6 separate regions of the Homo sapiens genome follow, and regions 1, 2, 3, 5 and 6 are each linked to region 4. The links come from fine-mapping of genetic effects on gene expression. A gene starts in region 4. Each other region holds a variant in brackets. All regions are shown on one strand. Distances are between the middles of the regions.

The links.
Region 1: its variant is fine-mapped to the expression of CDCA7L in esophagus muscle (GTEx, PIP 0.95).
Region 2: its variant is fine-mapped to the expression of CDCA7L in whole blood (INTERVAL, PIP above 0.99).
Region 3: its variant is fine-mapped to the expression of CDCA7L in cerebellar hemisphere (GTEx, PIP 0.93).
Region 5: its variant is fine-mapped to the expression of CDCA7L in whole blood (INTERVAL, PIP 0.99). The same link has a PIP of 0.9 or more in T cells.
Region 6: its variant is fine-mapped to the expression of CDCA7L in whole blood (TOPMed, PIP above 0.99).

What each region holds. Positions count from the first base shown.
Region 1 is chr7:21,591,287-21,595,286 of GRCh38, forward strand. DNAH11 (dynein axonemal heavy chain 11) reads left to right here. Exons shown (of 82, transcript NM_001277115.2): 14 at 1-291. Among named protein-coding and RNA genes, the nearest start is that of DNAH11, 50 kb to the left of the region's middle. The variant GA/G (reference allele first, on the strand shown) is at 2,284.
Region 2 is chr7:21,896,243-21,900,242 of GRCh38, forward strand. It overlaps DNAH11 (dynein axonemal heavy chain 11), which reads left to right. Exons shown (of 82, transcript NM_001277115.2): 80 at 3,094-3,206; 81 at 3,738-3,878. Among named protein-coding and RNA genes, the nearest start is that of CDCA7L, 48 kb to the right of the region's middle. RefSeq lists enhancers at 1,920-3,119, 2,071-2,130. The variant C/A (reference allele first, on the strand shown) is at 2,380.
Region 3 is chr7:21,921,189-21,925,364 of GRCh38, forward strand. The region is part of intron 1 of CDCA7L (cell division cycle associated 7 like); the gene reads right to left. Among named protein-coding and RNA genes, the nearest start is that of CDCA7L, 23 kb to the right of the region's middle. The variant T/C (reference allele first, on the strand shown) is at 1,888.
Region 4 is chr7:21,943,588-21,947,763 of GRCh38, forward strand. CDCA7L (cell division cycle associated 7 like) reads right to left here and starts at 2,312. Exons shown (of 10, transcript NM_018719.5): 1 at 2,194-2,312. The coding sequence starts at 2,217. RefSeq lists a silencer at 1,931-1,980 and enhancers at 2,121-2,270, 2,266-2,976, 2,661-2,910.
Region 5 is chr7:21,849,825-21,853,824 of GRCh38, forward strand. It overlaps DNAH11 (dynein axonemal heavy chain 11), which reads left to right. Exons shown (of 82, transcript NM_001277115.2): 67 at 2,643-2,807. Among named protein-coding and RNA genes, the nearest start is that of CDCA7L, 94 kb to the right of the region's middle. The variant A/G (reference allele first, on the strand shown) is at 2,009.
Region 6 is chr7:21,883,475-21,887,474 of GRCh38, forward strand. It overlaps DNAH11 (dynein axonemal heavy chain 11), which reads left to right. Exons shown (of 82, transcript NM_001277115.2): 76 at 817-936. Among named protein-coding and RNA genes, the nearest start is that of CDCA7L, 60 kb to the right of the region's middle. The variant C/T (reference allele first, on the strand shown) is at 1,865.

The DNA.
Region 1 (4,000 bases), 350 kb before region 4:
GACGAGCAGCTGACAGCAGCCACAACGTGGCTGACATGGCAGGATGACTGCTGGGGCTACATCGAGAGGGTGAGGGCAGCCACGTCCGAGTTGGAGCACAGAGTTGAGCGCACACAGAAAAACGTGAAGGTGATCCAGCAGACCATGAGGGGCTGGGCCAGGTGCGTGCTACCTCCCAGGAGAGAGCACAGACGAGAGGCAGCCTTCACCTTGGAGGACAAGGGTGATTTGTTTACAAAAAAATACAAGTTAATCCAAGGAGATGGCTGCAAGATCCACAACTTGGTCGAGGTAATGGCTTTTAACCTTTCAAGATTTATAGATCTTTTCATTGAGTTCAGAGAAGAGCAAAAATCTTTAACCTAATAATGTGGGACTCTTTTATCAAGCCTGAAAGAGCTTTATGAATGGTATTATTAGGCATTTAAAGTGGAGGAATTTGTGTTACTTGCCTGCAATTTCTGTAGCCCTCACCACTGTCATTCCTGAGGGAAGAGATTAGAATGTGAGATGTGTTGATTAAACAGAAAGGCTAGTGATAGAATCTTTATCTTGTCACAGTTGCATCCTCTTTTGGATGCTCCTTATAGCTACCACTGTTTGTTGACTGCCTCGTATGTGCCAAACAAACAACTTCCTTAGGTCATCTCAAGGTACCCTCTCAACCATCTCCTAAGGGTGGCAACAATAATTACTCTCCTTTTAACAAAGATTTGAGTTCCTAAAACAGTAACAGGCACTCATCTAGGCTTGTGAATGCAAGAGAAAACAGAAAAAAAACACACACACACACACAAAAGGCAGAAGGCAGGAAAATAAAAGCAAACAACACAATGCTCCCCTGCCAACCACCACCAAATCCTTTATTTCATGGAGCTTACACTCTAGTCAGAGGAAGTTAGCAAGAGAAAAGAACAAATAGATATGTCAGTTGTAATAGGAGCAATGATGAAAAATAGAGCAGAGCAGGTGGGATAGGGAGTCGCTTGCGGGTAGGGTGGTTGGGCAGGCCTCTTTCCTAAGATAGTATTTCTGCAGAGAACTGACAGGGAACAAAGCATATGGATATCAGGAGAAGAACATTCTGGAGAGCAAAAGTATAGACACTTTGAGGCAGGAGCAGCCTGGCCTGTTCCAGGATCAGTCAGCAAACTGAGATCAGAATTTGCAAGGGGAGTGGTAGTAGAGGGTGAGGTAGAAGAGACTAATGGTACATTATGTGGGGTTAGCAGGCTGTTATGAGGACTTTGGATTTTACCGTAAGGGGAAAGAGCAGCCAGAGACTTTCTGCTCAAAGGCTTTCCCTGTGGAGGGTAAGCCACAGGCAAGCAAAGAAGTGGTTGGCAGGGAGACTCTTCAGAGCCTATGCTAATAATCCAGGTGAGAAATGATGCTGCCTTGGGTCATAGTGCTAGTGATCAAGGCAGTTCATATCCTGCAGATATTTTGATGGCAGAGCCAGCAGAATTTGCTTTGAGGAATCAGAGGAGAGAGAAGTCAAGGATGATTTCAAGGTTTTTGGTCTGAGTGATTGGACTGGACTGGGGTTGCCCTTTAATGATATGAGGAAGACTGTGGTGAGCAGATTTTGTAGCAGAAAAAAAAAGGAGGTTTGGTTTTGGACAAGTTAGTTAGAGATGCTTGTCCTAAGGGACATTTTGAGTAGACTAGAATTGCAAATGTGTCTTGTGTTCAGGGCAAAATCCAGGTAAGTAACAGAGAATTGAGATTTATGCACATATGTATGGTATTTAGAGCCATATAATTAGATTAAGAACATGTGGGAATTGTAGATAGAAAAGAGGCCCAAAAACTAGCCTCGAAGTCCTCCCTAGGTCAGGGAGAAGAGGAAAATCCCACAGAGGATACTGAAAAAGAGAGAGTGATGCCCTGGAAACCAATAATAGAAGGGATTTCAAGGAGGAGGAAGAGCTCAACTCTGTCCCATCCTGACGTAGGACCTGAAAATAAAGACGGAGGCTAACCCTCAGATCTGGCAGCACGGAAGTCATTGGGATGAGGAGAGGTGATTTCATGTGGTGGCAGAGTGGAAGCTTGGTGGGAGTGGGCTGATGAGAGAATGGGGAAATATGAGTGGAGGCAGCTGAGGAGATCCTGAGGAGCTCTGCTGTGTGGCAAACCAACAACTGGGCAGTACCTGGGGCCTGTGTATCAGGGTGGGGAGGGTTTTATTTTTAATAGTGGTTGATGTTTCAGGATGTTTGTATGTTAACTGCAGTAATCTAGGAAGGAGAAAAAATTGTTGGAAGAAAGCCATTGAGG[GA/G]AATGGGATTTAGTAAATACCTGTAGAAGGTGTCTTTAGACAGGAGCGCGGAGCATTCATCTGTAGTACAGGATGGAGGGAAGGCAAAGATAGGAATGTGGTGCTCACAGATGTGCAATGCTGATGATGGGAACATGGGGAGTTGATTTCTTGTTGTTACTATTTCTTAAGGAAAAAAGGGATAGGAATGAAAGAGCGTATTTCATGTTTCCTCTGAGCATCCTTGTTATGTGGAGTCTTCTCTATAGACCAGCACAGTCCTTAATCCATGAATACTCTCCTTTGGGCAAGGCAGACAGACCCCCTCCCCTGCCCCTGCTCCCCCCAGACACAAAATCTCTCTCTCTCTAACACACACACACTCTCTTTCACACACACATACTCTTTTTCTCTGTATGTCACATACTCTCACACACAGTCTCTTCCTCTCACATATCACACACACACTCACACACACTCTTTCTCCCTCATGCACACTCTTTCATACACACATACACACACACACACACACACACACACACACACACACTCTGAAGCCATCATGAAGTAGCACAGTGTGGGGTAGGGAAAGTGTCCTTGGTAAAGGCTGGAAACCAGAGTCTTCCAGAGGCTGGGCCTGAATTTTCTCATGTGTAAAATGAAGGTCCTTGTCTCTAGGATAATTCTCAGCAGAACAAGAAATAGATTACGGTTTTCCTGCTGGGAATTGTATGCAACCCATTATGTATCTTGTCTTTGCAGTCCATCATCATTCACTTATTTGAGAAATATTTATTGTGAGCATTGTGTGTACCCAGCACCTTTCTAGGTTTTTGAAATATGAGAGCAGAGCAGACAAAGTTCCTTGCTCTCATGGAACTTGAATCAAGTGAGGAGAGAGACAATAAGCAGTGACATAGTAAGTCGTGCTGTGTTAGAACTGGTACGCGCTGCAGGAAAAAGATCAAATTGGAGCAGGGCAAGGGAATTCTGGAGGGTGGGGTCGAGGATGCAGTTTTAAGTAGGATGATCAGAGTAGGCCTCAACCAGAAGGTGAAATTTGAACAAAGACTTGACAGAGGTGATAGAGTCAGCCAAGTGGGCCTTTGGTGAAGAGTGTTCCAGGCAGAGGAGATAGTTTTGGGGCAGGAGATCCCTGGGCATGCTCGAGGAGGAGCAGGGAAGTAAGTGTGGGGGGAGTAGAGGGAGCTGAGTGGAGAGTTGCTGAGGTGAGGTCAGACGCTAAGCTGCGTGGTGAGGGACTGGCAGCTCAGGGGAGGCTTCATAGGCCTTTTTGCAGATTCTGGCTTTGGCTCACTCTGAGGTATGTGAAAGACACTGCAGAATTTTGAGATTTTGAGAAGGGGAGTAAATACAATCTGACTTTCATTCTAAAAGGATTTCTGGCTGTTGTGTTGAGACCCTCTGTAGGGAGGCTAGGGAAGAGGCAGGCCGACCTGGTAGGTTGCCATTCTTACTAGTAATCTAGGGGTTCCGTATGTTCAGGCTGATATAGCAAAATACTCTAAACTGAGTAGCTTTAAAACAGCAGAAATGGTTATCTCATAGTTCTGGAGGACCAGGTGCCAGCATGATCAGTTTCTGGCAAGGCCCCTCTTCTAGGTTGCAGACTGCCAACTTCTCATTGTGTCCTCACATGGAGGAAGTTCCCCTGGGCCTGTTTCATATAGGCAGTACTTTCATTCATGAAGGCTCTGCCCTCAGGACCTAATCACC
Region 2 (4,000 bases), 47 kb before region 4:
TTTTTATCAGAGTATAAAATATAGAGCAGGGCTTGGAGGGTGGGGGTGTAAATCATCTTGTGTTTCTGAAACTGTCCTCACTGCACTCTCCTTCTTGATTGATAGTTTACTTATACGTAGAATTATAGGACACGATTATTTTTCCTTCAGCACTTTGATGTTCTAACTCCATGGTTTTCTAGCTTTGATTGTAGAGGGTGGATCTGGTCTTAAATATTTGCCATTCCTTCCCAAGTAAAGTTTTAAAATGTTTCTCTTTACCCTTGATGTTCAACAATTTTACTATTGTACTGAGGTATGGATTTTTAAAGTACTGTCATAAATGTGAGATTCCATCCATAGCTTTTATTCTGAAAAAGTCTTAGCACTTTTTTCTCTGAATATCGTATTCTCCTCATGTCTACATTTATCTGCCTGACCTCTTAACGTTTTCAGTGTGTCTTTCGGCTGTATACTTGTAGACTTCATCAGTTCTGGGTGATCTTCATTATATCTTCAACTGTCTCCAATCTGTTTCTTAATTATTTAGATGTCATTGTCCAGGTTGGGCGCAGTGGCTCATGCCCAGCACTTTGGGAGGGCAAGGCAGGAGGATCACTTGAGCCCAGGAGTTCGAAGCCAGCCTGGGCAACATAATGAGACCCTGTCTCTAAAAAACAATAATAAAATAAATAAAATAAAAATTAGCCAGGTGTGGTGGCATGCGACTGTAGTCCTAGCTACTCAAGGTGTAGAGGTGGTAGGATTGCTTGAGCCCAAGAGGTCAAGGGTGCAATGAGCCATGATCATGCCACTGCATTCTAGCCTGGGTGACAGAGCAAGACCCTGTCTCAAAAAATAAAGTATATTTCATCGTCCATAATTATCAGTTCCAGGTTTTTTATATTTTTGGAAGGGTGCCTAGCTTAGTTTTATAATTTCCTGTTTTCGTTTTTATGACTGTTATTCTCTTTTCCTGAGAAGTTTAAACATACTTACAAGTAAGTATTTTCTTCAAGACTTCTCTATTTCCTGGGTTATAAACCTTCCTGTTTGTTGGATTTGCTGGTGGTTTTTCATGCCCTATACTCTTATGTCTATACCTGAATGACAGTTTGGCCAGTTATTAAAATATAATAACACCCTCAGTTGGAGGCCTTTGTAGCCATCACTCTCCTCTTGTCAAATGCTGCCGTGGAGATGTCAAAAGCTAGCATACTTCTTTTCCCTTTATAAATGGCTTCATGTTTTCCCCTGGCCATCCAGGGATTCTTCATTGTTCATATTATTCTTTATATTTTAGTATTGATTACTCTCTACCAAATTTTCTTGGAACATGATGTGCCCTTGATTGTATAGATTCAAAGGTATAATTTAGGAAAACTCAAATTTTCTAGAATTACACTTTTTTTTTGAGAGATTCTCATTCTGTTGCCTAGGCTGGAGTGCAGTGACGTGATCGCAGCTCACTGCAACCTCTGCCTCTTGGGTTCAACCGATTCTCCTGCCTTCAGCCTCCCTAGTAGCTGGGATTACAGGCATGTGCCACCATGCCCGGCCAACTTTGTTATTTTTAGTAGGGATGGGGTTTCACCATGTTGGCCAGGCTGGTCTCGAACACCTGACCTCAAGTGATCCACCTGCCTCGGCCTCCCAAAGTGCTGGGATTACAGATGTGAGCCACCACGTCTGGCCTCATTTCAGCTTTCATTTTATTGCTTTCACTCTAACCCTTTACCTCTTTATTTCCATTTGTTTTTATTATTCTCCCTTACGCTGTTTCACTTTTGCTTTCATTTCTATAATTTTATTTTCTACTTCTTATTTGGGGTCTTCAAACTTAATTTCCTTACTATTTCCTACCTGATCCCTTCTAAGTCATGATCTTGTTTATATCAACAATCACTTGTTTTAGTTGTTACAAATTGTCTGCAGTGTTTATCCTCATGATGGCAACATTTTGAGAGAAATGTCTTCCTGCCTTTGCTTTTCTCATTCGCCTTTTTCCTTTGTGTGGTGCCTATGCTGTTTCTTCTTCTTATCGTCGAGTATGCTTTTTCGGATCCAGCTATCTGGAAGAACTTAATATAGGTCCGGGCACAGAGATTTTCCTTGTGGTGACGTAAGTTTGACCGTGAGCATTCTGAGCCTTTTCTTCTTCACGGCCCAGAGTCAGGCAAGTATCTCAGGCAGACATGTTCTGCCATGTGGTTTGTCAGGGTGTTTCCTCATTCACCCCCACTTCCTTTGCATATCTGAAGCAGACAAGGTCCTAGAAAACTTCAGTGCCAGCCTTTCCTTCTAGAGAACTCTGGCTTTTACACTGAGGCTATGCTCTCTACTCCATTCTCCTGGTCCCCTTTAAGCAGCCTCTGAAACTTACAATTCAAGGTTTCACTT[C/A]TCTCTTAATTTTATCGAAGAGGTTCATCTGTCCCTAGCCTCTGTGAGCCAGCTTCCTTATAGGTCAACTGCAAATACTTCCTACCTTGCCCAATTGTGAGGAGCCGAGAAGAGAACATGTACGTAACAGCAGCGTTTCTCAACCCACCGGCGTGCCATTCCTGGCTGACTTGTTTTCCTAATTAACCTTTTTCCTCCCCACTTTCAGGCAGCTACTGCACGTGCTTAGACTGCCGTCACGTGCTCCACTGCCTCCGCACATGCTGTTCCCTCTGCTTATCAATCAGATTTCCCGGCAACTCTGGTCTTGTAACCACCATCACAGCCTTGCCATCCCTGGTCCTCAGACACCCTGTCCATACCTCCAAGTTGGCGCTTGTCAGTCCAAGTCATAGGGTGATGACCTTTGTATAGTCACCACATAGCATGAAGAGGCTCTAATAAAAGCTGTTGCATAAATGGAAATGAGTTTTCCACATTCCTCAGTGTATCTTGCTCTAATGTAAACGCTACAGTCATCAAGTCTCCAATGGGAAACAAACTAGCCCTTTAAAGGGACAGTGCCCTGCAAATTGTCAGGGAAGGATTTTACCAGCTAGCAGTGGTATACTTCTCCTCCACCACCACCCTGCCCTAACCGCCCACAACAGAACATACTGGAAAATGGCTATTTTACTGAACAGCAAGTTTTTCTTCCTCCCTCCCATAAACCAGGTTCAATGACCTCCTCCTGCGATGCCGAGAACTCGATACTTGGACACAAGACCTTACCCTTCCGGCTGTCGTGTGGCTCTCCGGCTTCTTCAACCCTCAGTCCTTCTTAACTGGTAAGGGCTGACGCAGTGCAGCCCCTGATGCACACAGGACCACAGCCTAACCAGAAGCCCTGCTTTGTTTACCTATGATGGCGTCTCCTTGCCCTGCTCACCAATCCTCAAGCAGCAGCCATTATAGAAAGGACCAGCAGCTATAGAGGAAACAGAGTCCTGGGCAGGCGAGTAGCAGCAGGAGGGAAAGGACCTCCTATAGCAGCAAGAGTAGCCAAGTGAGGTGGGGCACGGTGTGCTCTTATTAAACATTTTCTGGAAAGGGCCACATAGCTTCTCTGCTACTGTAGTGCGAAAACCACAGACAATCCACAAATGGCTGTGACTATTCCAATAAAACTATCTACAGAAACAGCGAGCTTGTCCTGCAGGCCTTAGTTGGCCAACCCCCTGCTCCAGCGCAGCCATGTGCCAATGCCCAAGAACCTAAAACACCCTATGGGACTAAAGGATGCCTCAATTTACTGGTAGCTCCCGGGAACCTTACATGCAACACTTTTATCCTATTCAATTTTTGTTATATTTCCAAAGCAATCATGCAGACGATGGCTCGAAAAAATGAGTGGCCCCTGGATAAAACGCGCTTGACTGCTGATGTTACCAAAAAAACAAAGGAAGATTATGGACACCCGCCAAGGGAAGGTGCATACCTCCACGGACTCTTCATGGAGGGTAAGACACCCCAAGGGGTAAGTGGGGAACCTTTTCTTACTCAGGTTCAGATCAGTGTTTGTCCTCTGCTTACTGTTTCTCAGCATCTCCTCACTCACACAGTAACCTTATGCTAGTCATTA
Region 3 (4,176 bases), 22 kb before region 4:
AGAGGTACCATTAGGGGGCTATAATTACTGATTAGGAACAAAAGGAAAGAGCACACTTTCAAAAAAACGGTGTGCATTCCTGGGGTACGCAGGGCTCTGATCCTTCAAAAGGTATTAAAAGAGTTTCAGATAGTCACAAGCTTCAAGATTTGCCAAAAAAAAAAAAAAAACTGTAAAATATTCAAGTGTCCTCAATGCAACGAACTGATTTGTCTAACAGATGCAACAAAGGCAGCAAGATTTATATGAGAAGGACCTGATAGAAAGGATACACAGGGACCTCTTCTAATGAATGACCAGTTCCACAACACAGTGATACATTAGGCCCAAGGATCTGTCACTTTCCTGTTCCATTCAGCAGCGATCCACTGGGTAGCTGCATAGTCTAGACAAAAATGCAAGACCTTTTTTTTTTTTTTTCAAAGTTTGTGTTCCATTCTATTACAATAAAGCCAATCATAAGACTCACCAAAAAGAAAACTACAACAAGTAACTGAAAACAACAAAAATACAAAATTTCTCAATCAATGGATATTTACATTAGTTGAACTTCTGAATTAGGATAACTACTATCTAGTGAACCAAAAAAAAAAGGGAAAATTCTCATCTGAAAGTGAAAAGACCGTTTCATTATTTATAATACTTGTTAAAAATCGACAACTTCATGCTATTCCTTTCATGTACAGTTTCTGTTTGTCTACTCTGTCTTTATTGGAATTAACAGTGTGAATATCATCAAAAGTCATATGGGGGACCAGGATTCAATTCTATGAGAACACAGGTACTAGAATGGAATCCACAGGCACCTAACATAGAGCCCAGCCTAAAGCAGATGATCAACAAACCCTTGCTGAAAGCATTTACATGCATCTGACTTTGTAGCCATTTTCTTAAGAAAGGTGTATTTTACTAGGAAAATACTAAGTCAAAAAGGTACACTCTGTGACATTCCTACATGAGGGGAATTAAAAATTTTCACCCAGAATCCTAAGACATCTTTCTACAAAGCAGTCATATTCACAGCTCCCCTTTCAGAAAGGACTGCAGGTTTCCCTTATAAGCCATACAGATTACCTGAGAGCTTTTCTCTGAAATACATTATGCCAACTCAACAGGCTTTGGGGCCAAGCAGGTGGGTAACAGGGCAGTAGGTCAGCTGTAGGACAATATGGGATGGTGCTGACTGGTAGGCTGAACACATATATCAGGGAAGGCAGGCCACTCCTCCACTCCAGCTGATCACTGCCCTGCAGGAACAGGGGTCTGGTGTGTCTGACCTCCAACATTCCCAGAGAACCTGAGAATCTGAGTGTTGGTAAGAAACTTCCCATCTACAGACTGGATCTCAAACTTGTTCAGGGAACATGCACGGTGGAACTCATAGGGCTCTGTGGGACACCAAGGAAACTGCAAATGCCAGAATTCCAAATATTACCAACAGTATTAATATATCTACTAGTGCCTAGTAGTAATAGTAGAGGGCATCAAAGTGTTAAGAAGATTAAGAAAAACTTTATATCCTTTCCCTTATTCATGGCATCATGATTCACAAGAGCCAAAAGGTGGAAGCAATCCAAGTATCCATCGATGGATAAATGGATAAACAAAATGTGAGACATACATATAATTGAATATTATTCAACACTAAAAAGGAAGGAAATTATGACACATGCCACAACATGGATGAACTTTGAAGACGTTATGCTAAATGATAATAACCCAGTCTCGATAAAACCAAGAACGGTATGATTCTACTTATAACAGGTACCTAGAGTGGTTGAATCCTCGGAGACAGCAGAATGGCACTTGCCAGATGCTGAGGGGAGGGAGAAACGTGGAGTTACTGTTTAATGGATACAGATTCAGCTTTCCAAGATGGAAAGAGTT[T/C]TGGAATTTAAATATGCTTAACACTACTGAACCATACATTTTAAAATGGCTAAGATAGGAGATTTTATGTTATATGTATCTTAGCACAATTTAAAAAGAATTCAACGAAAAAAGACAAGAAAGACAATTTAAGCCAGGCATGGTGGTTCATACCTGTAATCCCAGCACTCTGGGAGGCCGAGGCAGGAAGATCACTTGACCCCAGGGGTTTGAGACCAGCCTAGGCAACATGGTGAGACCCCGTCTCTACCAAAAAAGATACAAAAATCAGCTGGGTTGTGGTGGCGTGTGCCTGTAGTCCCAGCTACTCATGAAGCTAAAATGGGAGGATCGGTTGAGCCCATGAGTTAGAGGCTGCATGCAGTGAGCTATGATCATACCACTACACTACAGTCAGGGTGTCAGTGAGACCCTGTCTCTAAAAGAGAAAAAGAAAAAAAGAAAAACCGGGGTAGAGGGGAATTTTTCCTTCCTTAAGTGAATGAAATCTTCCAAACTGACAGAACAAGTCCAGACCTTAGCCTAGTTTTAATGGTACCATCACTTTAGGGGCATGTGGCTTAAGAACCCAACTCTCTCACCTAAGGGAGGTTCAGATACATCATTGTAGGTGCCAAGGCTTCAGCTTTAGTGTCTGACCAACCAGGTATCTGAGCCTGTAAGCCCATTAGTTAACTGATAGTCTGGAGGACAAAGCTGTTTGCAGAACCACACTTGGCTGAAATCCAGCTTTGTTCTATCCCAGCTAAGCTATACTAATAAAAATAAACCCTGCTGAGTTGCTGCTGGCTTCTCGTTGAGTAGGTGCCTTTCAGGCATACAAAGCAGTGCTCTGGAGGTCTCCATACCATTTTGACCTTTGTCAGCCTGAGTCTCCATTAAAATTCAATTTAAAAAACTAATAAGCTATAAAAAGATCATCAAACTGTCAGTTGGTATTCAATCAAGTATTTACCTTTGAAAATATTTTAACGTGAAGTATTGTTCATTTAAAACTTTATATTGTGAAATTAAGTATAATATTTTTTAAATTAAAGCTTTTCCATAACTCAATGATATCTAAATTCATCCTTCCTGGATTAAAAAATACAACCTCCTACCCAGAAGGAACACATTTATCAGTATTAGTTTTTGAAGAGAAAGAAAATAAGATTCACTTTTTAGGCCAACTGATACAAGGGCTGATTCTGATATACTCCAAGAATATTCAGTGTACATTTCACCTAGAAGCAAGCTCTATTTTAAGATTTAAAAAGCAGACAAAAGATATTTATGCACACTACTGCATTTTCCTTATTAAGTGTTTTGAAAGCAATTTTGATAGCAATGACAGCAGAATTTGCAAGGTGTACTATCTTGCATCTATGAAAAGAGATCTACACAGAGGAGAGCATTCCTTCCTCTTTAACACACCACGAAGGGCGAGAACTGTTATTTTCTTATGCAAAATCATTTCTTTGAATTTTTTACAAATAAATTTGTTGGCCCATAAGAAAAGTACATACCATGCACCAACCACAAGAACTAACTCAAAATGGATCACAAACTTGAATATAAAACTATAAAACTTTTAGAAGAGGAGAAAATCTTTGTGACCTTAAGTTAGGCAAAGAATTCTTAAGATACAACACCAGATACAACACAATACAGATCTTTAAAATGTGTAAAGTAAACAATCAAAATTAAGAACTTCTGCTCTTCAGAAAACACCGTTAAGAGAATGAAAAGGAAAGCCACACACTGGGAGAAAATATCTGCAAATGCTGTCTCTGATTTGCACCCAGAAAATATAAAGAATTCTCATAATTCAATAAAAAGAAAACAAATAAATCAGATGGTCGACGAGTTAAATGGTAAACAAGCACAAAAGAGAATTAAATTAACACACACATGCATCTGACCTCTGAATGGGGAGGACTTTCACCAATCACGTAAAGGAGACCAAAATGGAAAAGTAGATCACTGACCATGTAACAGTTTAAAGCTTGCTACTTAAAAGAAGAAAATTCAGAAACAAAAACAAACAAACAAACAAAAAAAGGTAGGGCAAAGATCTGACAAAAATATGACAAATTATTAAAATTGCTAAAAACCTCATACAAAATGAAATATATACCATGGCCACACAGACAAAATGGCAAAACAAAGAAAACTCACTAGGGAAAACAAAAGAGGCTAAAAACACTTTAAAAGTCCTCAGCCTACCTAGTAATGAAAAGAATGGCAAGTAAAACAAGTATTCTTTTCATCTAGCAATTTAGCAACATTTTGCTTCCATTTTTAAGGGCA
Region 4 (4,176 bases):
CTGCCCACCCCACAGAACCACTCTCCACTAATTTAGAGACTATAATCTGTGCACATTTAAATTACGATGAACAGGAACATTTCCACTGGAAAAACCATCACACATCTTTGATTTGCACTGCCAATTAGGTCTTCAGAAAAGGAAAAAAAAAAAAACCCTGATCATCTTACATATAGTAATTTGCCTTAATTGGTGCATAATGGATCGGATATAATTTGTGGGTAACCCCTACATGATAAATAGTTTATTTAACATTTTAGAACTACCAAAAATTAGCCTCATTGTGTGGCAGTAAACGCTCACTTCCAACTACACATTCTGGGACTTCTGAGTTTCCTAAGCATGAATTATGAATATCAGTAGTGGAAGTGCAAAGAACTCTCCAGCTTAACAACAGGAGTGACACATTCCAGAAACATTTTCTGATTACATTCACAAGGAGCTCCGGAGTGATAAATTCCAGATACATTTTCTGACTAAACTCACAAGGAGCTCAAATCTCCATCCAGAGGGTTTGTTTTTTGTTTTTAGTCCTGTAGCAACAGAAACTCCTAGAAGGTTAGGACGCCAGCCGGAAGTGGTGGCTCACGCCTGTAATCCCAGCACTTTGGGAGGCCGAGGCAGGTGGATCACCTGAGGTCAGCAGTTCAAGACCAGACTGGACAACATTGTGAAACCCTGTCTCTACTAAAAAAAAAAAAAAAATACAAAAAATTAGACAGGCGTGGTGGCGGGCGCCTGTAATCCCAGCTACTCGGGACGCTGAGGCAGGAAAATTGCTTGAACCCGGGAGGCGAAGGTTGCAGTGAGCCGAGGTCGCGCCATTACACTCCACCCCGGACAAGAGCGAAACTCCGTCTCCAAAAAAAAAAAAAAAAAAAAAAGGATGCTAATACACGGTAAAAGCCAGTGGCAAAAAATAAAAAATCGAACCCTGTCTCATTCCGTAGGCTTTACTGTTTCCCTTGCTTTTAATAGTTTATCTCACAGGAGGCATTTTAAAAATATTCTCAGAAACATCAACAACAGATTTTTCTCAAGCGACCATTTTCAGGAAGGCTTCAGAAATTACTAAAAGGCCAAAGCTACCGTTAGTGGCTCAGTCTTTGCCGCCAGACTCGGGCAGGTGACAGCGGTTTGGGCTCGGGCGCCGGGCACTCTGCGCCTTCCAACGCTGGCGGCCCCGCCTCCCCTTCTCCCGGGCCAGGCACGCAGGTGGAGGAAAGTAAACACCAGTCGGAAGCAAGGTGGAAGCAGTGAGTCTCGCGACTCTCAATAAAACAAGTGGAAAAAAAAAAAAAAACAATCCTCGCACAAAGCATCTCCGTGCTCCCACAAGCAGAGGCGTGGCTGCTTGTTTCCCTTTTTAAAGGTTGTATTTTTAGTTCTTATGAAAAATGTTTTTATTGCTTACTTCTAAGTAAACATGTATCTCCATTACGATAACGTAGAGAAAAGCTCTTTTAAGAAGTAAAAAGAGAAAACTGAAGTCACGTTCACATTCCCACTACTCACTGAAACGTTTGGGGGAACTTACTCAAGTGTTTGCTAATGAGTTTTAAAGACGAGTTAGGCCCTTAACGCGTAATTGGGGTCGTGCTGTGCATATGATTTGGGATCTTGCAGCTTGTTTAACTCGGCCCAATGACGTTACCATTTCCCCCAAATGGTTACTAATTCCTTGAAAACGTTTACAAAAGTTCTAGAATAAACACTAAAGTTATTATTTTTAAACTCCATTATCCAAGTTGGACTGGTCTGGCGATCGACTGTTAAAAAAAAAAAATTACAACTTTCTTAAGCTTCCTGATCTCTGTGCCAATTCCCGGAGAAAGTGTGGGGAGTGCACAAAAAAAGCCCCTCCCCCGTCTCACGAGGGCTGCAAACGCAGGCGCTGCGCCCCGCTAGCTCCCCGCCTGCACCCCCGGCGGCCACCCGAGACTGAGCAGAGCGCCAGGCTGAGCGCGGTTGTGTGCTGGGGCGACCGGCCTCTGTGGTCCGCGTAGCACAAACGTGACCCACTGCGCACACCTGCAGGGCGCGCCCACTCCGGCACTCAACCGGCTGGGCGCGCCAGATCCCCAGTGCCGCAGCCAAGGGCCACGTTTCCAGCCCAAGGCCAGCAGGACCGGGTGGCAAAGGGAAGTCAAACTGTGGGTGCGTCCGGACGGCGGCGGGCGGCCGGACCCTCACCTGGTAGCGAGTCGCCAACTCCATTCTTCCTAACCGGGCTCCAGTCTCCTCCCAGCACGCGGCCACGGGAGCCCGGACTCACCACGGCCCGGCGCACCAAGAACGCCCCGCGCCCGAGCAGCTAGCGCGCTCCGCCCGGAGCACAGGCGGGCCCCGGGAGGGGCGCACTTGACGCCCTGGACAGGGGGAGCGCGTTGCGCTGCCCCCTCGGTGCCGCCTCACTGGGCCTCGTGGCTCCGATCACGTTCCAACTTCGCGGCCACTGACCTTGTCTTCGCAGGCGGCGCGAGAGGGGGCTGCAGTTGGGCGCGGCAAGAGCAATTACCAGTGTTAGGGCGCCGGGCTCCCCCCTGCAGCAGAGGGAGGGAGTGGAGCCGTCCGGCGGGGTTTAGCGCGGGAGAAATGAGGGGGCTGTCCCGGCGCAGCCTCCAGCTGGCACGCGCGCTGGATACTTGGCAGGGTTTATTCCAGGTCATGCCCTGGGGCGCGAGCTTCTGCTGCAACCCCTGTCTCTGATCCAGGCAAATATTGTAGGGCGGCTTTGGGGCTTGTTTTGTTTTGTTGTTGTAACGGGGCAGGGTTCTCTTTGGGAAGATTCTGTCTCCCAAAACATTTGCTACAGGGTTCACTTTGCAGAACAGGCAACCCAGGTTTCTTTACCAAGGCCCAGGTGGACAGATGCAAACCCGCCTGAAACTTTAGACGGCCATTACACAGTAGGCCTCCACACCCACCAGACAAAGAGTTTGTAGAGGTCAGGAATGCTGACTAATTTAACAGAATTGACCCCGGCATCTACTAAGCATCAGGCACTGGGCTAGTCCTAGGAACAGAAGGGTGAACAAAAACAGGCCCCTGCTCTGTTGGAGTTTACAGCCTGAGAGCCAGTTACCAACCTAATTGCATTATTCTAAATAAATACAATAATGATGCAAATAAGTGTAATAACGATGTAAATTTTATAAATTAGATTTATAATTAATATTAATTTGATACCACTATCAATGACAAATGTAATGATGATGCAAATAAATGTAAATTTGGAGCGATGATGCCATGAGAAAAAAGGCAAGTGGTATTAATGGTGGTGTGAAATAGGAAGACAATCTGATAGAGGTCAGGGAATACTTCTTAGAGTTCAGATATGAAGAGTGAGGAATTAAGTTTGTGGAAATTGTGGGAGAGTTGAAGTAGAGAGTGGGGAGAATGGTAAATGAAGTTGTCCTGAAATCACAGCAGGTTTGCTGGACAGTGTTGCACACCTATTTAGAACCGTGGTCATAGGTTTACAGTAGAGCATCCTGTACGCATAGGACCTTCTGCAGCCCCTCTCAGCTGCTTAGGATCTGACGTTCATCTTTTCTTTATTGAACGAGTGAATGAAATTTGCCAAACATTTACTCAAGCTTGAAGAGAAAACATGGAAAAGGTTTCCTTCCTTCCTTTGGTTAGTTCAGCAAACAACATGTGTTATGTGCTTTCATGTTCCAGCCCTCAGTGTTCTCACTTCCTGGTGGTAGTAAAACCAATACAACATTGTGTGACTTAAAATGTTTTGTTTTTATTGGATAATGTTATTTATTCATTATGGCCACTTCATTTTTATTATGCTTTAGAGTTTTCCTTCACATGCAGTATCTCCTTGAATCCTCTCAATATCCTTCCAGATCCTTATTGTCCACATTTTTAAAATAAGGAAACAGAATCTAAGAAAATACATTAAGAGATCCCTGCCACCCTGCCACTAAGTGACAGCAGCAGACTGCCAAACTGAAAACCATTCCTTATGCCTCCAGATCCAACATTCTTTCCATTTTTCTGTATTTTTTCCCTTTGGCTGCCAGGAAGCTTAGAGTGAAAATTAATTCAATCAGAGCTCTTCTTCCTCTTTTTTTTTTTTTAGATAGTTGCTTCCTCATGAACTGCTGATCTTGTTTGCACTTCTTTTCATTGTAGGTTAAATCAAATCAATTTTGGAAAAGG
Region 5 (4,000 bases), 94 kb before region 4:
TGGGTGTCCTGGATCTTTGGTTTGGTATCTTTCATTAATTTTGAAGAATTTTTAGCTACCATTATTTCCAATCTTTCTTCTGCTCATTTTTTTCTTTTTTCTCCTTGTAAGCATCTCACAGTTCTTGGATATTCTTTCCTTTTTAATTTTTATTCTTTTTTTTTTTCAAGTATCTAATGACATATGTCTAAGCATACTGATTCTTGTCACTGTGTCTAGTTTACTCATGAGCCCGTCAAAAACATTCTTCAGCCGGGCACGGTGGCTCACGCCTGTAATCCCAGCACTTTGGGAGGCCAAGGCAGGCGGATCACAAGGTCAGGAGATTGAGACCATCCTGGCTAACACGGTGAAACCCCATCTCTACTAAAAATACAAAAAATTAGCCAGGTGTGGTGGTGGGAGCCTGTAGTCCCAGCTACTCGGGAGGCTGAGGCAGGAGAATGGCGTGAACCCGGGAGGCGGAGCTTGCAGTGACCCGAGATGGCGCCACAGCGCTCCAGCCTGGGCGACAGAGGAGACTCTGTCTCAAAAAAAAAAAAAAAGAAAAAGAAAAAGAAAAAAAATTCTTCATTTTTGTTACGTTGTTTTTTATGTCTAGCATTTCCTTTTCATTCTTTGAGTTTCTATCTCTACTTACATTGCCCATGTGGTCTTGCATGGTGTTCACTTTTCCATTAAACCCGTTAGCACATTAAGTAGTTATTTTTAACTCCCAGTTTGATAATTCCAAAATTTCTGCCACATCTGAGTCTTGTCCTGAGGTTTGCGTTCTGTCTTCTTCTTTTTTTTTTTTTTTTTTTTTTTGCCTCTAAGTATACCTTGTACTTATTTGTTGAAAACCTTGAAAACCAGACATGATGTATTAGATAACTGTCACAAAAGTAAACAGAGGTTTAGTGTGAGGTTTTATGTTTCCAGGGCTAGGAGTTACGGCTGTGTCTCATGTTCATTTAGCTGCAGTTTTACCTGGTGTCCTTGTTTTTGTCTCCCTTGTTGTCCTTAGGTTTCCCTAAAAACTGATTTTTAAATAGAATCTGTGCTTTGCAAATCTCTCAGTTATAATCCACTGATATTATACTGGAGTCTGTCAATGTGTTGGTAAGGTATTATGGAGGGGAAGCATTCTTTTCTCTTATAATTACATCTCAGGGTTTTTTAGGAGCTGTGAATCACTGGGATGTGGCCTTCAGAAGAGTTACTCAGCCTTTTTTAAAGGACAGGAATTCTGCCTTCCCCAGTGATATGGTTTGGCTATGACATCACCCAAATCTCATCTTGAATTGTAGTTCCCATAATCCCCGTATGTTGTGGCAGGGACCCAGTGGGAGGTAACTGAATCACGGGATTGGTTTCCTCCATGCTGTTCTTGTGATAGTGAGTGAGTTCTCATAAGATCTGATGGTTTTATAAGGGGCTTTTCCCCCTTTGCTGGGCACTTCTCTCTGCTGCCGCCAAGGAAAGAAGGACATGTTTGCTTCCCTTCCACCATGATTGTAAGTTTCCTGATGCCTCCCCAGCTATACGGAACTATGAGTCAATTAAATCTCTTTTCTTTTTAAATTACCCAGTCTCAGGAAGTCCTTTATCGCACCTTGAGAGCAGATTAATACATCCAGGTCATATTAGGCACTGGCCAAGTAGTTTCCCTTGTGGGCAGGCTTTGGTTAAGGAGAACAGAAAGTTCTGGACATATTTAAAATGGTTACTTTCCCTCTGAGCTTATGTCATAATGGTTACTTTTCCCATCCTTAGCCCAGAGCTGGTGTAGATTTTATCTGACCTTCACTGTAAGAACCGGATGGCATTTCCTGGAGGTAAAACTCAAAGAAGTGTAGAGACTACGAAGACTGGGCCCCTCTGAAGTTTTAATTCAAGCTCTACTTGCATGTCAGTGTTCCCGAGAAGCTGTGATTCTCTGTGTTTGCCTGTTTTTAGGATGGCAATTTGTCCTGTGACCTCCGTTCTCTGATGTATGTAGGAAGAATTGTTGATGAGTTTTTTTCCT[A/G]TTTTGAGAACGGAAATGAGACTTCTAAGCCTTTATATGTCTGAGCAGAAACCAGAAGTTTCTGATGTTTTCTTAAACAGATTCTTCCTGTGGTTCATGATGTTAAATTATTGTTAAGCGTTTATACTCTGCACCCTGGAGTGCAACTAGATCTTAACATACCTTCTGAAGTTTTTTAAAGAATTTCTAAAAATTGTGATTGGTATGATTTTAATGTTAAGGGTGTTTTATTATATACTGATTCCATGAAATTTGTGATTAAGGAAACTCTGGTTTAAAAACATTTACTTGTCCAGGCGCAGTGGCTCACGCCTGTAATGGCAGCACTTTGGGAGGCCTAGGTGGGTGGATCATTTGAGGTCAGGAGTTCGAGACCAGCTTGACCAACGTGGTGAAACCCCGTCTCTACTAAAATACAAAAAAAAATAGCTGGATGTGGTGGCAGGCACCTGTAATCTCAGCTACTCGGGAGGCTGAGGCAGGAGAATCGCTTTAACCCAGGAGGCACACGTCGCAGTGAGCCAAGATCATACCACTGTACTCCAGCCTGGGCGACAGAGCAAGACTTCCTCTAAAAAAAAAAAAAAAAAAGTACTTAACCACCATTTCCCACACTTTTCTTGGTTTTTATTAGTTGGTATTGACAAAGCACCAAAATGATTTTAAAATTGAGCTCAAGTATCTGGAAGACGATCTCCTTTTGCGCCTTTCTGCGGCAGAGGGAAGCTTTCTGGATGACACCAAACTGGTAGAGAGATTGGAGGCAACAAAGACCACCGTGGCAGAGATAGAGCACAAGGTAGGAAGGGCAGAGGGTGCCTGGCAGATTCTAATGCTCTGTTCGAATGAGACATGTGGGGTGGGCAGTGTGATCAGACTTGGTAATTCCTCTAAGAGGACCAGCGTGTGGAATTCAGGTGATTTAATAAGCTGCAGTTGGACTGTGTGGGATTGTAAATGGAGATGGAGATGGTTGAATGTGTGCTTCTCCTAATTCCATAGAGATGTCATTCAAATTAGACACTGTCCGGCTATTATTTTTCCTGGGTGACCAAATGTGAAGAAAAGCTGAGGCCTGCTGGCTTCTATGGCTGAAAATCTGAAAAGCCTTAGCATCCGGCTCTTCCAAACTCATATCCTACAGTTTCTCTGCAGGTTCTCCAAGCTGTTGGACATTTTAAAGAAATTCTTAGAGTGAAAGTTTTGTTTACAGGCCTGCCGTGGCAGGATACCGAGCAAAGGATAATCTCCTGCTGTACTCAAATGCACTATTCACCCCAGGAAAAATGACATTTCCTAAAAGCCAGTAGAAATTTTTATTAAATAGGCTTCCTGCTAATGTCCAACATGGGTCCCAATATGCCTTATGTGTGATGTGCACTTTGGACTTTCACAGATGACCGTTAACCCTTAAAATGCCATTGTTTCAGTGTGAATTAGACCCTTATTTGCTTTCTGGAATATCCTTATTACTAAGTAATCTATTAATTACCCAGCAGAAGCTGTGTCACTACGCATCCTTTATATTTGTCTTAAATTAAGCGAGGAAATGGAATCCCAAATTACTCTGTCTTTTCAAGTAAGTGAATATTAGGTGGCTCCTAAGATGGTAAAGTTAGAACAATTAAGTAAATTAACTTAGCTTTGAAGTTAACTTCTAATTGTCTCTTAAAATGTGTCTTCCTATCTTCTTAATATATCACCATGTAGTGACTTCCTTCTCTGCCCTACATTTTATTTCCTTTTATACACAAATATTATGAGTCAACTCTATAGAGAAGGTTGGGGAAAATACTGTATCCTATGGGACCAGCAGTAGTCCTAGATAAAAGAAATAGATATTTGAGCCTTGGGTAAAACTGATATGTTGGTTGATGGTGGTGCTGGTTTTTCTTTTTAAATTATCTCTCTGAATGTACCCAGAGGCTAATACATAAAGATAAACTAAATGGAAATATATGGACATATGGATGATCCAGTGCAAAGTTAGAA
Region 6 (4,000 bases), 60 kb before region 4:
ACAAGCCCTCAGCTCCATCTGTGGCAAGGGGATTTGTTTGCCTGGACTTTTGGAAAATACTAGGATTCTAAATACACCCCAAATTCAAATTGTGTGGATGTTGCTTTCTTTTCCTGAATCAGATAATACAAGCTGATATAAAGCAGATAATAAAAACATGTCATACTTCAAAGGCCCTGTGAACCAACATCCTTTCACAATTTTTAGATGAGAATTTGAATGTATAAACTTTCCCTGCAAACATGTTCTAGGGATGACTCAGTTTCTTTTAAAATCTGCCTAAGGCTGGGCATGGCAGCTCAAGCCTGTAAATCCCAGTACTTTGAGAGGCCAAGGAGGAAGGATGGCTTGAGGCCAGGAATTCGAGACCAACCTGGACACCATAGTGAGACCCCCATCTCTACAAAATTTTTAAAAAATTAGCGAGATGTAGTGTCCTGTGCCTGTAGTCCTAGTTACTTGGGAGGCTGAGGCGAGAGGATTGCTGGAGCCCCAGAATTCAAGGTTGCAATGAGCTGTGATTGTGCCACTGCACTCCAGCTTAGGCAACAAAGCCAGACCTCATCTCTTAAAGAAAAAAAATCTTCATAAACAGCTCAATGTTAGTGAATTTTCACTGACTATATTAGAAGACACTGAAAATAATTCTCCCAAGAAATTCTCTGCAGAAACTTAGACAATTTCTGAAGCACCTTTAAATCCTCCTATTGACGGAGGCTTGGAGGGCATTGTGTTAGAGGGGCACGTGCTACTGGTTGGCTACTCTGAGGCAGACTCTGCACCCAGCAGTGAATATTTGTGTGGTTTTCTCCACAGGTCCCATGGGAAGATCTCCGTTATCTCTTTGGTGAGATCATGTATGGAGGCCACATCACAGATGACTGGGATCGCAAACTGTGTCGGGTGTATTTAGAAGAATTCATGAATCCATCTCTGGTAAGACATTTGTAAATTAATTTGTAAATAAATTTCACTGAGCAAAAAATTCTGGTAAGAATTTTATAAACTAATTATACTATGGGCAATTCTTAATGTTATTGAGGATGCTTGGCCTTTTGGGAAATTTCTTAGAAAAGCGGAATCTCGGGTTCCATCCCAGACCTACAGAATCAGAATCTGCATTTTCACAAGTCTTCCAGGTGATCTCTGTGTGTGCTAGAGAGTGCACCAGCGTGAGGCAGCCTCACATGCACTGACTCATCGGCTCTTTATAAAAACCCTATGAGGTATGCAGAGCTGACGCTGTTATTCCCTTTTCTAGACCGAGATGCTGAAACATGGGGATTTGCCCCAGGCCACTAGGTTGGCACAGGCAAGAGTTTTGTGCGTCTTTTGATAGAAGTCTTTTGATTTCTATTCCAGAGTTTATTTCACTAAAGTTTCTTTTCTGCCTGTCATGGAAGTCCTAGAAAATAGTCTACAGTTGGACCAGTATCAGTTACTCAATTATAATATGTGCTCAAGAAAAATGTGGTCAATATGTATGTGAGGTGATAGATTTGTTAATTAGCCTGATTTAACCATTCCACGATGTACACGTGTATCAAAACATCACACTGTGCCCCATAAATATATATAATTATTATTTGTCAATTTAAAATAAAATTAAATCTAACAAGATAGTAAAAAAAAAGATTATATATATCAACCAAGGGCAAGGTAAGAACCTTATTTGGATCTTGTTCCAAATGAACTATAAAAAAAAAAAAAAAAACACACACATTTATGACACAATGGGAAATTAACATTAACATATCATGGTAATATAGAATTCCCGTTAATATTTTATGTGTGATAATAAAGTAATATAGTTATGTTTTTTAAAAAGAGAAAAGATGCTCCAGGGTGAACCTGGAGGACATTA[C/T]GTTAAATGAAATAAGTCAGACGCAGAAGGACAAATACATGTTCTCACACACATAAAGACTCTTAAAAAGCTGATCTCCTATAAATGGTGAATAGAACAGTGGTTACCAGAGACTGGGGAAGGGGAGAATGGGGAATGAATGGTCAACAGATACAAAGTTACCATCCTTAGAAAGGAAGAATAAGTAAGTTCTCGTGTCCTATTGCACAGTAGGGTAACTGTAGTCAACAATACAATATTGTATATCTAAAAATAGCTAGAAGAGAGGATTTTGTATGTTCCCACCCCAAAGAAATGAGAAATATTTAAGATGATGGGCCTGCTGATTGCCTGATTTGATCATTACACAACATATACATGTATCAAAACATCGCATTGTACCCCATCAATATGTACAATTATTATGTGTCAGTTAAAAAGACAAGTATGGTGATTTGAGAACCTCATTCTTCCTTCTCTCGTGAGGAAGAGGTAGATCACCCCTGTAGGTGGAGTTTTAAAAGACCAAGCATCCTTTTCCCATTTCTCATCTTAGTAACCCTGTGTCTGTGTAGAAATGGTTCCAGCCCGGGGCTGTGTTTTCTGGAAAAAGTACTCCATTTTTGTTTCTCGTACTACAGAGGGTGAGCGTGGTGGCTGTAGTTTTCTCATGCTCTCTCTCCCTCATGGCATCCAGGTTCATGGCCATTCCTGGTTATTTCTTGGAAACGTAAAGCACCTGTACACCATATCATGTCTATTTCCAGTTGGGCGAGACACCAACTCTGTTTAAAGCAATGCTTTGAATAGTTTGAGTGATGTCCTATTTATAGTTTCTCTGAAAATTTCACCTCAGAGAAGCATTATATAGATTTGATCACCTTCCTAGAGTTCATTTTGAGAAGTAATATAATCATATCAGTCTAATATTTAGTGTATATTAGATTAAATCACTAAAATCATATTAGTCTAATATTTAGTCTATTTTAGACTAAAATACACCAGGAAAACATAGTGTATTTTAGTCTAATATAGAAAACTGGGGACATTCTTTTGTTACTACTTTTAATAATGTGGAACAGTTTGGAGACAGTGCAAAAAATGCACAATGTTATGTAATTGTTTCTTTTGATTGTGAGTCTCATGGTCTTTCCTTAGTTCTAATGAGCAAGATTTCACATGTCAGAGAGAGACTTCCAATTTAGCACAATTGGAAGTCACTCCTCAGGAAAGGTCTGGGAGCAAGTTACCATGGAGATGGGAAAGCTAAACAGTGCCAGGCATGCGACCTTTACAGAGGCTGATTTCTCCGAATGATGGTGGAGGGCAAGGGGCCCGCGAGGAGCTCCCCTAGCTCTGGCCTGTGGCTGAGGGGAGAATTACTGTTGCCAAATGCAGCAGTCCATTAACCTTCACAAGCCTGAACTCCCATTCAAATAATTGTAAAATAAATATAGGTGATGAAACCTGAAGGGGCATCAGTGATGTGTGTAAGCCCTTTAGAAATTTAGGTACCTGACCTTACATACAGATCTGGCGAGGTTTCCAGGATTGAAATGCTTCATTTTGCAAGCTGGCATCCTCACTGGAGAGGTACCTCCTCAACTCACCAAAGGAAATTAAAGCACTTAACTGACTTGCTGTCAGAGGCTGCAAATCCCAGTTATTTTGTTCTCATGCACGTTTCTCCTGTTTATGCTGTTTATATGATTAGCAACATGATCTAACACTTCATCTGCAGGACATCTTTTTGCCACTTCCCACAAGTGGTTAACATATTTGGAAATTAGTGTCTTTGGTTGCATTGGAACATGATCAAAAAGCAACCCATTCATGGTGTGGGGTTTAAAGTTCTGCTGCTCTTATCCAAAGAATCAGAATGCTTTCAGTGATATCTTGCTGTTAGGAGGATCAGTGAGTTTCTTGTTGAATAAATGAGTTTGCTCTCAGAGAGAGTTCTCCAGTGGGCTTTAGAGGGTCTCTGGCCAAAGTCAAGAAAGAAAACATCTTCTCACATAAAGCATGTATTTGGCAGCGTTAATTAAGAAATACAGTAAATCACTTTCAGAGAATAAGGTACCAGGTCACCTTAAAGTTATCATATAATACAAACTATTTTAGTAATATAGAATAACAAGAATCTGGGGTTTGAAGTAA